Regions from separate parts of the Homo sapiens genome. Here region 2 is linked to region 1. A link means that fine-mapping ties the variant in region 1 to the plasma level of a protein whose gene starts in the linked region. Region 1 holds a variant in brackets. A gene starts in the other region. All regions are shown on their forward strands. Region 1 overlaps TP53BP1 (tumor protein p53 binding protein 1). Region 2 holds the start of FETUB (fetuin B).

The links. PIP is the posterior inclusion probability: the model's chance that the variant is causal. The UK Biobank Pharma Proteomics Project read protein levels with antibody pairs (Olink). The fine-mapping took linkage between variants from a reference panel, not from the people measured, so its PIPs are less certain.
Region 2: FETUB starts here. The variant in region 1 is fine-mapped to the plasma level of the FETUB protein (UK Biobank, PIP 0.94).

The regions. Positions count from the first base shown.
Region 1 is chr15:43,432,506-43,437,505 of GRCh38, forward strand. It overlaps TP53BP1 (tumor protein p53 binding protein 1), which reads right to left. Exons shown (of 28, transcript NM_001141980.3): 17 at 1-172. Among named protein-coding and RNA genes, the nearest start is that of TP53BP1, 58 kb to the right of the region's middle. The variant A/C (reference allele first, on the strand shown) is at 1,922.
Region 2 is chr3:186,638,137-186,643,671 of GRCh38, forward strand. It overlaps FETUB (fetuin B), which reads left to right and starts at 2,263. Exons shown (of 7, transcript NM_014375.3): 1 at 2,263-2,549; 2 at 2,894-3,004; 3 at 4,335-4,422. The coding sequence starts at 2,325. HRG-AS1 (HRG and FETUB antisense RNA 1) reads right to left here. Exons shown (of 3, transcript NR_187317.1): 2 at 3,818-3,992; 3 at 3,373-3,487.

The sequences.
Region 1 (5,000 bases):
TTGAGGACTGGATGGCCCTTGTATGACCATCTTCTGGGAAGCAGGAGAAACAGGGTCCTTGACAGGACTAATGGGCTTCATAGGCTGTTGACTCTGCCTGATTGTATGGTCACCCTCCAATTTTTCTTTCTCCTCTTCTCCTTGAGAACTTGGAAAGTGGAGCAAGTTCCCCCTGAAAATGCAACATATAAAGAAGCCATGTCAATTAAGCAAGTGTATGTGTGAACGTGTGTGTGTGCGTGTGCATGTGTGTGTGTAGTGGCAAGGGGGGAGCCATATTTTGACAATTTGAGAAATGTAAGGAAGGGAGAAAGTCAGGTAGTCAAGCATTATCACCTTGGGAGGCCTCTCATTATAATTTCACTCCTGTAAAAAAAATAATGGTAGATAGAACAATTCCACCATGATGATAAAAGAGTCATAAAATTTCTTCCCATCACTAGCTATGAACTCTGAAACTTGATGCAGGAAAATGAAGTAAACAAAAAGATGTAAACCCATTACTGAAGTCATAGACAATGAAGGGCAACTTAGGGATCTATTTTGAAAAAAGATCAATTAAGTCAAGATGTCTTATCTGGCCTTATGATGGTTCTAACATTCCTTAACTGATTCCTAGCATTCTAGATACTGTTTATCCCCACCTGAGCAATATTTTTAGGAAAGAAAATCTGACTTACAAAGGATAAAGCTGTAGGTAGATTCTAGTTTTGTCAGCTATACTGATATATCTACAACTAAACATTTCAGAATGAATTGGTTTCTCAAAGACAGTTCTTAAGATACAGCCCATTTTTTTTCATAAGTCATCCCATTTGGGTATCAGTGATTCGTTCCTTTATTCCACAAGCATTTGCTGAATGTCTCCTACAAACCACATACCACGATTTCCGAAGTGACTAGGAGCTTTCTTAAATATCCCTAACAATTCTCCAGAATAAAAACGTCCAGGCTAACTCCAAGTCAACAGAAATTTGACATTCATGTCTTATCTATCTTTATATTTAAAACACCTAACTCACAGCTTAATATAAAATAGATGCTTAATACATGTACTTTGAACAGAAGACTGAATGTTCTCTGAATCAATTAATTGCAAAATCTACTCAGATTAAATCAACATAATGCAGTTTTAGGCTCCATTACACGCACAATAGCCAGAATAAAAATAAAAGGAATCCATTCTGAACTGACCATGCTAAGACCACATCTGGAATATCTGTTTCAGTTCTCGGCATGACAGTTTACAAGGCATAAACTGTAGATAAACTCAGAAGGTAACATGAAGGACGATAAGGGGCCTAGAAACTATGTCATATGTTGATTTAAGTATGTGGCCAGAAAAAGAGTTAGGGCTGTCTCCTATTTGACAGAAGCTCTTATCCTTAGGATCTCAGCTTTCCTACGTAGACAGGGTAAAGGAAGCAGGAAGTGCTCTTCAGGGATTGCTCTGCTCTAGATCTTGAAGGAAAAGGAAAAAAGAAGTTTCTGAGGTTTCTATATTGTTTAGCTCAGCCTACCAGAACAGGAGCTCAAAGAGGGATTTCAAATAGAGTTCTAGCCAAGAAGAGCTTAGTATAAATTTGGTTGTTATAGTGTGTGTCCTATCTCTCAGGAACCTCAACTGAATGAGAATATATGGTCCAATGAAGAAGAAGTAAGAACAAGACCACCAGGAGACACCTACCATGAGTAGCACTTACCTCTTATGAGGTTTATAAATGTTCATATATGTAAAATATTGAGCATAGCAGATGCTCAATCAATATTAGATGCATAAGACAATGCAATTAAACAGACTCAGTTCACCTTCAATATCAACTAAATATTCATATTTAAATCTTTAAGACATCTAACATACCAATGGCTGAGCAAGAAGGAAAGGATTCAAAAGCCAGAAGAGCCAGGACTCGATTTTAGG[A/C]ATTCAATTATTGTTGTTTCCTATCCTAAACAAGCTTATAAATTTTATCTCATGCTACAGACTAAATGTCTATGTCCCCTCCACCCCAAGACTTACATTAAATCCTAACCACCAAGGTGATGGTATTAAGAGGCAGAGCCCTCATGAATAGGGTTAGTGCCCTTATAAAAGAGACCTCAGAGAGCTCTCTTGCCCCCAACTGCCATGTGAGAACAGCTGTCTACAAACCAGGAAGCAGGCCCTCACCAGACACCAAATCTGCCAGTGCTTTGATCTAGAACTTCTCAGCCTCCAGAAATGAGAGAAATAAATTCTTTTGTTTATAAGCTATCTAGCCTATGGCAGTTTGTTGCAGCAGCCCAAAGAGACTAAGACACCTCAGAAGCTGTTTATTCAGGTTAGAATACCTGAATTGAATTTTACTTCTACAGCAATCCAATAAATTGTAAGAAGTGCCATACCTCTCTCCCTCTCCATTAGTTCCAGCTATGCAATTCTACTCTGGTCACTATATGCCAGACTTAGAAACTGATGCTAAGAAAGTAAATTTTAGGCTGGGCACAGTGGCTCACACCAGTAATCCCAGCACTTTGGGAAGCCAAGACGGGTGGATCACCTGAGGTGAGGAGTTCGAGACCTGCCTGGCCAACACGGCAAAACCCCGTCTCTACTAAAAATACAAAAAAAATAGCCATGTGTGGTGGCATACACCTGTAGTCCCAGCTACTTGGGAGGCTGAGGCAGGAGAATCCCTCGAACCTGGGAGGTGGAGGTTGCAGTGAGCCAAGATCGCCCTACTGCACTTCCAGCCTGGGTGACACACAGACCAAGACCCCATCTCAAAAAAAAAAAAAAAAAAAAAAAAATCCAAATTGAAATAGGGAAGAATACATCTCCATATTTAACAAATGTCTAACTATTCTATTCTGAGTGTAGCTCTGTTTATGAGGCATCTAGAATCAAATCCAGCTAGATTCCCAGATCTTTGCTCCACCAAGGTTAAACAATATAACCAACATCTTGGCACCTCTATTTTAAAACGCTTTAATAAAAAAGCAAGGCAATACAATGACATCAATAAATTTAGTAATAGCTGGGTCATTACTACACCACTGTTAAAATCACATGATTTCAGGATCATCTGATTCCCAAGAATATCAACAAGCTCACACTTATTCAGAATGCCCATTTAATGCACTGACATATTTATTTTAAATATTTCTTTCAATAATGAGCATAGAAATTTAGAAATTATGCTACCTATTAATTTTTTTTTTTTTAATGGATAAGACATAACTCTCACTCTCTCGCCAGGCTGTAGTGCAGTGGCACCATCTTGGCTCACTGCAACCTCCTCCTCCAGGGTTCAAGTGATTCTCATGCCTTAGCCTCCAGAGTAGCTGAGACTACAAGCGTGGACGACCCTGCCTGGCTAATTTTTGTATTTTTAGTAGAGACAGCGTTTTACCATGTTGGCCAGGCTGGTCACTAACTCCTGGCCTCAAGTGGTCACCCCTCCTCAGCCTCTCAAAGTGCTGGGATTACAGGTGTGAGCCACCCCATCCAGTCTTTTTTTTTTTCTTTAGACAGAGTCTGGCTTTGTCGCCCAGGCTGGAGTACAGTGGCACAATCTCGGCTCACTATAACCTCCACCTCCTGGGCTCGAGCCATTCTCCCACCTCAGCATCCCAAGTAGCTGGGACTACAGGGATGCACCACCACACCTGGCTAATTTTGTACTTTTTGTAGAGACGAAGTTTCACCATGATGCCCAGGCTGGTCTCCAACTCCAGAGCTCAGGCCATCCACCCACCTCGGTCTACCAAAGTGCCACCGCGCCTGGCTAAATCATGCTACTTATATCACTGTTACTGATATACCTACTGACAAAACATTATCACATTGTCTAATTACGAAATCACTGAATTTTAGAGGTGAAAGATACTCACTTCATAATGAAAATACAGGTCCTTTTCCACTGCCATTACTTATTTCTCTACACTAAATATAAGTATCATATATTCCATATAAGATACTATTTATTTATTTATTTATTATTATTTTTTAAGACATGGTCTCACTCTGTTCCCCAGGCTAAAGTGCAGTGGCGAGACCACAGCTCCCTGCAGCCTCGACCACCCAGGTTCAACCAATCATCCCACTTCAGTCTTCCAAGTAGCTGGGACCACAAGCGCATGCCACCACATCCGGCTTTTTTTTTTTTCTTTTTTTTCTTGGTAGAAATAGGGTCTCACTATGTCACCCAGGCTCATCTCAAACTCCTGGCCTCAAGTAATCCTCATGCTTTGGCCTCCAAGTGCTGGGATTACAGGCGTGAGCCACCGTGGCCAGCCGCTTCCTTAATTATTTAAATAGAGATAAAGGCCTGTAACTCAAAACTTTTTTCCTGCCTCACGACTGTTCTAAGAGATTATGGAGTAAAGAAATTATGGGGCTAAGCACAGTTGCTCATATCTGTAATTCTAGCACGTTGGGAAGATGAGGCAGGAGGATCACTTGAGCCCAGGCGTCTGAGACCAGCCTGGGCAACACAGTTGAAAAAAAAGTTGAAAAAAAAAAAAATTAGCCAGACACGGCAGCACATGCCTGTAGTCCTAGCCACTCAGGGGGTTCAGGCAGGAGGATTGCTTGAGCCTAGGAATTTGGGGCTGCCGTGAGCTATTACTGCACCACTGCACCTCAGCCTGGGTGACAGAGTGAGACCCTGTCTCTAAAAAGAAAAAGAAATTATGGAAAAATTAATTCCATTAAGTCTGAAAAACTTTAAATTTGGGATGTTAAACATCTCATATTTTGCTCTGTGGGAAACTAAGGAGAAATAAAAAGTCTGTTAAAAGTAAACATGATTCCCAAAATAAGAAAAACTAATCTAAGAAATGAGGAATTATATAAATTATTTTCACCGTAGGGCACGGTGGCTCACACTTGTATTCCTAACACTTCTGGACGCCAAGGTGGGAGGACTGCTTGATCCCAAGAGTTTGAAACCAGACTGGACAACACAGTGAGAAGCCATCTCTACAAAGAATAGAAAAATTAGCCGGTATGGTGGCGCATG
Region 2 (5,535 bases), not on the chromosome of region 1:
GATACCAGAAATTTTAAAATTAAATATGTAACTTGCATTGTATTTCTATTAGACACACTGGATTCAACAAAACCTAGATTGATCTATCTCCACAGCCTTGTTCTTCACTCCTGAGCAGAAATTTAACTTCCATGCTGATACTAAAGTTGTTCCCATATGTGATGGGAACCAAACACAAGTGTACCTGGGTTGGGCTTCTAGGGAAAGAGGAACTCTATTCTCTTTCTACAGGCAGGTGCAACTGTGCATGTATACATATGCTGGGAGTGCCATTGTTTTATGAATAAGGAAACAAAATGCTGTGTGGCACACCCAGTGTCACAGGCCCTCTTACCGTGCAGTGGAAGAGGTGGAATTTAAACCCAAGACTGCCTGACACCAAAGGCTGGACTCTTCCCCTGCTTCCTCTCCCAGGGCTCCCATACTCCACAGCCTAGGAGAAGGCCAGCTCAGGTTGTTTGAGACTGGGTTGAAACCCAGGTGCATAAGTGGTGGTGCACGATTTCCATGTTATTGGATCTTTTTATCTGTTTGAGTCCTGCCTTTTATTTTAGTTGCACTCATGGCCTTCACCTATATAAGTCTAATATATTCCTCAGGTCCCAGACCATTCTCCTCCTCTTTGTTCTGCATCCTCAGGCCCCAGATCCTTCTCAACCTCTTTCTGTACGTTGCTCAAGCTCAATGAATGTTTGTCTCCTCACTGGCTGAAGCTAAACCTTTGTTGTGCCCCAGAATCTGAATGTCTGGTTTCTGTACCCATTTTGCTAGTATCGTTCCTATTTGAAAACAATGCCTACAGCCCACATCCACAGAGCTGGGATCTTTAGATTTGGGTTTTTCAATCAATCCTCAAAAACTATTTCTCTCCAGAAATTAATTAGGGCTGTGCCTCAGTTAGTTTTATGTAGTTATAACAGAATATCAGAGACCAGGGAATTTATAATGAACAGAAATTACTTTGGCTCATGGTTTGGGGGGCTGGGAAGTCTAAGATCGAGGGGCTATACCTGCTGAGAGCCTTCATGCTACATCATAACATGGTGGAAGGCATCACACAGGTGAAAGGAAGAGAGAAGGGGACCAAACACATCCTTTTATCAGGAACTCACTTTCAAGATAATGGCATATTCCATTCATGAGGGTGGAGCCCTCATCAGGATAGGATAATCCTCTCAGCATTACACAATAGCCACCACTGTGTACCAGCAAGCACACAGAAGGATTCAGCAGTTCCTAAACTTATTTGAATGCAGAATCCTTGGACAGGGACAGGAAGGAAGAGAAGGGCTAGGAGTAGGGAGAGAGTTAGGGGGTGGTTACTCACCTCATGGACTAGGGCTTTATAGAATGCCCTTCATGATAACCTCTTCTAGAGGCTTCTTTCCCATTTTGTCTCTTTTCTCTCATGACAAACTACTGCTGATATGTGTTTTTTGTTGAAATACAGTTTTTAAAAGATAATTGTCTTTTGTATGGTCCCAATAAGTAGAACCTTTCTGAATCACAAATAGAAGCTAAAAAAAAAAAAAAAAAAAGAAGGCAAGAGTCCCAACCAATGTGTTGCCACCCACCTGCCCTTCAGTATCTTTCTTTTAGCAAGAGTATGGGGCTTTAGTCTCTTAATGAGCTTGCTTCCATACATATGCATAAAAGGAAGAATAGGCTTGAAATACAATGTGAGAACTTTTTATATCTCTTTGACTTTTTCCCCTTAAGTAAAGTCATTGTTTAAAAATAACTTAAATGATGATAAGTAGAACATTTTCCACCCAGATGGCCAAAGTGCTTAAGGAATCTCAACTGTGCTTCTGGCAGATGACTGTGGGGTTCAACTACCTCCCTGATCTAACAAGGGCTTTGCACACAGAGTGTCAGCCAGGAAGTCTGAATTCACCAAGCACCACTGGGACATAAGATAACTATTAGAGTGGCCAAGGAGACCTCCACAGCAAAGGTGTTAGGGGAGAGGGGGAGAATGGGACAGTCCTCCATATTCCTATTCAGGAGGGGACCTGCAAATCAGAATCTAATCATAAGAGCCTTGAACAAATGTTATGATTTCTCAGGAAACAGTTGGGAAACTTAAATTCATTTGTATGTACAGGTGGATATGAGGTTGCTCAAGGGTCTAAGGTTAGAATCATTGGGAAATGCTATCCAAAGTACTGACTTAGGAAAATCCAAGTTCAGAATTCAAGGTGAACTTGGTTAGCCCTTCCAGTTGTAACAAAACCGCTCAAGTCTGCCTTAAAGAGCCTTACAAGCCAGCCAGTCCCTGCAGCTCCACAAACTGACCCATCCTGGGCCTTGTTCTCCACAGAATGGGTCTGCTCCTTCCCCTGGCACTCTGCATCCTAGTCCTGTGCTGCGGAGCAATGTCTCCACCCCAGCTGGCCCTCAACCCCTCGGCTCTGCTCTCCCGGGGCTGCAATGACTCAGATGTGCTGGCAGTTGCAGGCTTTGCCCTGCGGGATATTAACAAAGACAGAAAGGATGGCTATGTGCTGAGACTCAACCGAGTGAACGACGCCCAGGAATACAGACGGGCAAGTAGGGACAGTTCCCACTCTGGGGCAGGGATGTGGGCAAGCTGGAGAGACTGGCCAGGGTGAGGGAACCCAGAGACACCCTGGCAGGTGTTTTCTGTATTGGAAGCCCTGCCGAGAACTCTCTGTTCTCCTCTGCCAGGGTCAGCAACAACGCACTTATTGTTAGTAAAAACAAGTGTTAACAGTGATCCTACTCTGACACTTGTGTCAGATTTAATGGTTTACGGGGAATCTTCACAAATATTCTTTGGCTTTGCCATAAAGCAGGGGTTTTTTTGTGTGGTCTTTCTAGGTTTCTACTTCCTGTGAAATGTATTGCATTTCTCTACCCCTTCCCACAGGGTGGCCTGGGATCTCTGTTCTATCTTACACTGGATGTGCTAGAGACTGACTGCCATGTGCTCAGAAAGAAGGCATGGCAAGACTGTGGAATGAGGATATTTTTTGAATCAGTGAGTGCTTGTTTTTATAAACCATTAAGGGCCCTAGGGAAAGCAAGTAGGTACACTCTTTCTACAGGGTCAAGGGTGCTCAATATCTGTCATCTTTTAAATGGCCCACTTTATAATCTCCTGGCAGGTGCCCATAAGCTTATTCTAATGCTCTAGACAGAACAAAGTTTAATTCATGAGAGGGGTTTCTGAGAAGTCCCATTGGGGTCATGCAGAACAGAATGGAAAAGTTGCCCCAAGTTGTGTTTTTACCTCCAAGACCTTCCGTTAGGCTCTGAACCAGTGTTTCAATTGTGAGAAAAAGACCTGAGGTGTGAATATTCTGGACGTGGGGTTAATGTAGACTGCAGAAGTGATGGAGGTAGAGCTTTGTCTATTTGTTTTATTTTGCTTTGTTTCAATAAACTCCGATGCCAGGTTTGAGGGGAGGAAAATGGATGACTTGCAGTATGAAAGCTCTCAAGGGCGCCGTGTAAGGATTTCCTGAAACCACAGAGCATAATAAAGGGCCTCAGAATTAATCTTCTAAAGATGATCATAGAAGAGACTTGAAAATAGATAATCCATTTCATTTCATTCTTAATTATCCTGGGATGATTTTCAGTAATTGATATAAAACTTTACAGTGTGAGTACAGAATAGTGATGTAAGTGTTTAGAAGAAAACTATTTGATCAAGATATTTTCCTAATCATGTAGCCAATTGGTCAAACTGTACCCAACTTGATTTTGAAAAGTGAATATCCTGTTGTGAATTATATTTGTTATGGTGACACTAGCTACTAAAACACAGACACAAAAACTGTATACTCACTCTAACATGATAGAAGTTCATTTCTCACGCATGTAAAGTTGAAAGTAGAAGTTCCTGATTAGATGGGTGCTTTGCTCCAGGGGTGATTTGAGACCCAAGTTTATTCCACACTCTGGCTCTAGACTCTGCAGCCTCAGCTCACGACTTCCATGGTTACCTGCTCATCTGCATCAAGCTGTGCACAGAGAAAGAGCATAGAGGACAGTGAGAACGTGGGAGACCCTTATGAGCCAGATCTGGAAATGGTTACACCTCACTTCTGCTCACCTTCCTGTGGTTAGAACTCAATTATACACAGTCACACGTGTTGGGGAGGCTTGGAAACATATTCTAGCTGTGTCCTAGGGAAAGGTTAAACAGTTTGATCATCAACTGCAGTTCCTCCCAGCCAAAACCACAGAATTTGATCTTAAGTTTCTAACTACTTTAAAAGAAAATGTCTGACTTTAATTTTGGAGGTATTTTAAAAGCTCATAGTTGCATTCGCTATGTCATAAAATGCATTTGTTGGTTTCAGGTTTATGGTCAATGCAAAGCAATATTTTATATGAACAACCCAAGTAGAGTTCTCTATTTAGCTGCTTATAACTGTACTCTTCGCCCAGGTAAGAAATCACTACGATTTTGTTAGTTTTAATAAAGGATGGAAAAGAGTACTTAACCAGGTCTTTGCCAAGAATGTATAGGGTATCTCTCATTCTTATTTTCTGTTTATTCTTAATGCCAGTTTCTTAATATTTCCAGTACTTACCTCCTTACTGAAATTCATACTATACTGCTCCTCTTCCCACAATTAATCTTACTAAACTACCTCTACATTTATATGCTGCATCAGATCTTACATTTTCAGTCTGACATAAATGGTATAATTTCTATGACTGTTCCCTCAGGCTTCCTTTCTTGCTATCTCTGCCATTATTTCCCAGACTACACCAACTCTTCACTCCATTCTACTGGATGCCACCCTGTTTTCTGAACATGCACTGCAATTTCCAGTCTCTGTGTCTTGCTTGTGCCTCTCCCTCTGCTGAGCATGCCCTCCCCTGATGACCTCTGACCTTGGGACACACCTATTCTTTAAGGACCAACACCACTTCTTCCACAGTGTTCTCTATTCTAGAAAGGAATGGTGCTTTTGTAATCTGCATTCCTATAAAATTTTGTCTAAACTACTCAGGGAACACATAATGCACTGCCTTGATTTGAGGGTCGCATATCTTACATCATGTAGAATAGTTTCTCCTTTCCTCCTCCTGCTGCACCCTTCCTCAGTTCCCACCAAGTAGAAGGTGTCAATAATGTTGTTAAGTAAATAATTGGACTAGAAATGAGGCTGAAACTTAATGACACTTGAAATATGCACATGCATTCATTTGGGACCTTCCTTTTTTCAAGGGAAGGTCTTTGGAAAGAGAGCATCCACAGTGCAGGAAAACAGAATTTGGTCCCCTGTCGAACAACTACGTGCGTGTCGCTCCCCTGGTGGATCCTGTGCAAGTGTAGATTCTGATTCCACAGGTCTTGGTCAGGACCTGAGATCCTGCATCTCTAATAAGCTCCAGGAGATAAGAATGCTGCTGGTTGCTTTGAATAACAAGGCAAGCGAGCAAACATTTTGTTAGGCACAGTTTAAGGTTCCTGGTTGTGAAGGCAAGATTCACAGAACAGCAAGTAGTAAACAGTCTCAGGACTTAAATGGAAGTCATAAGTATCAGAGC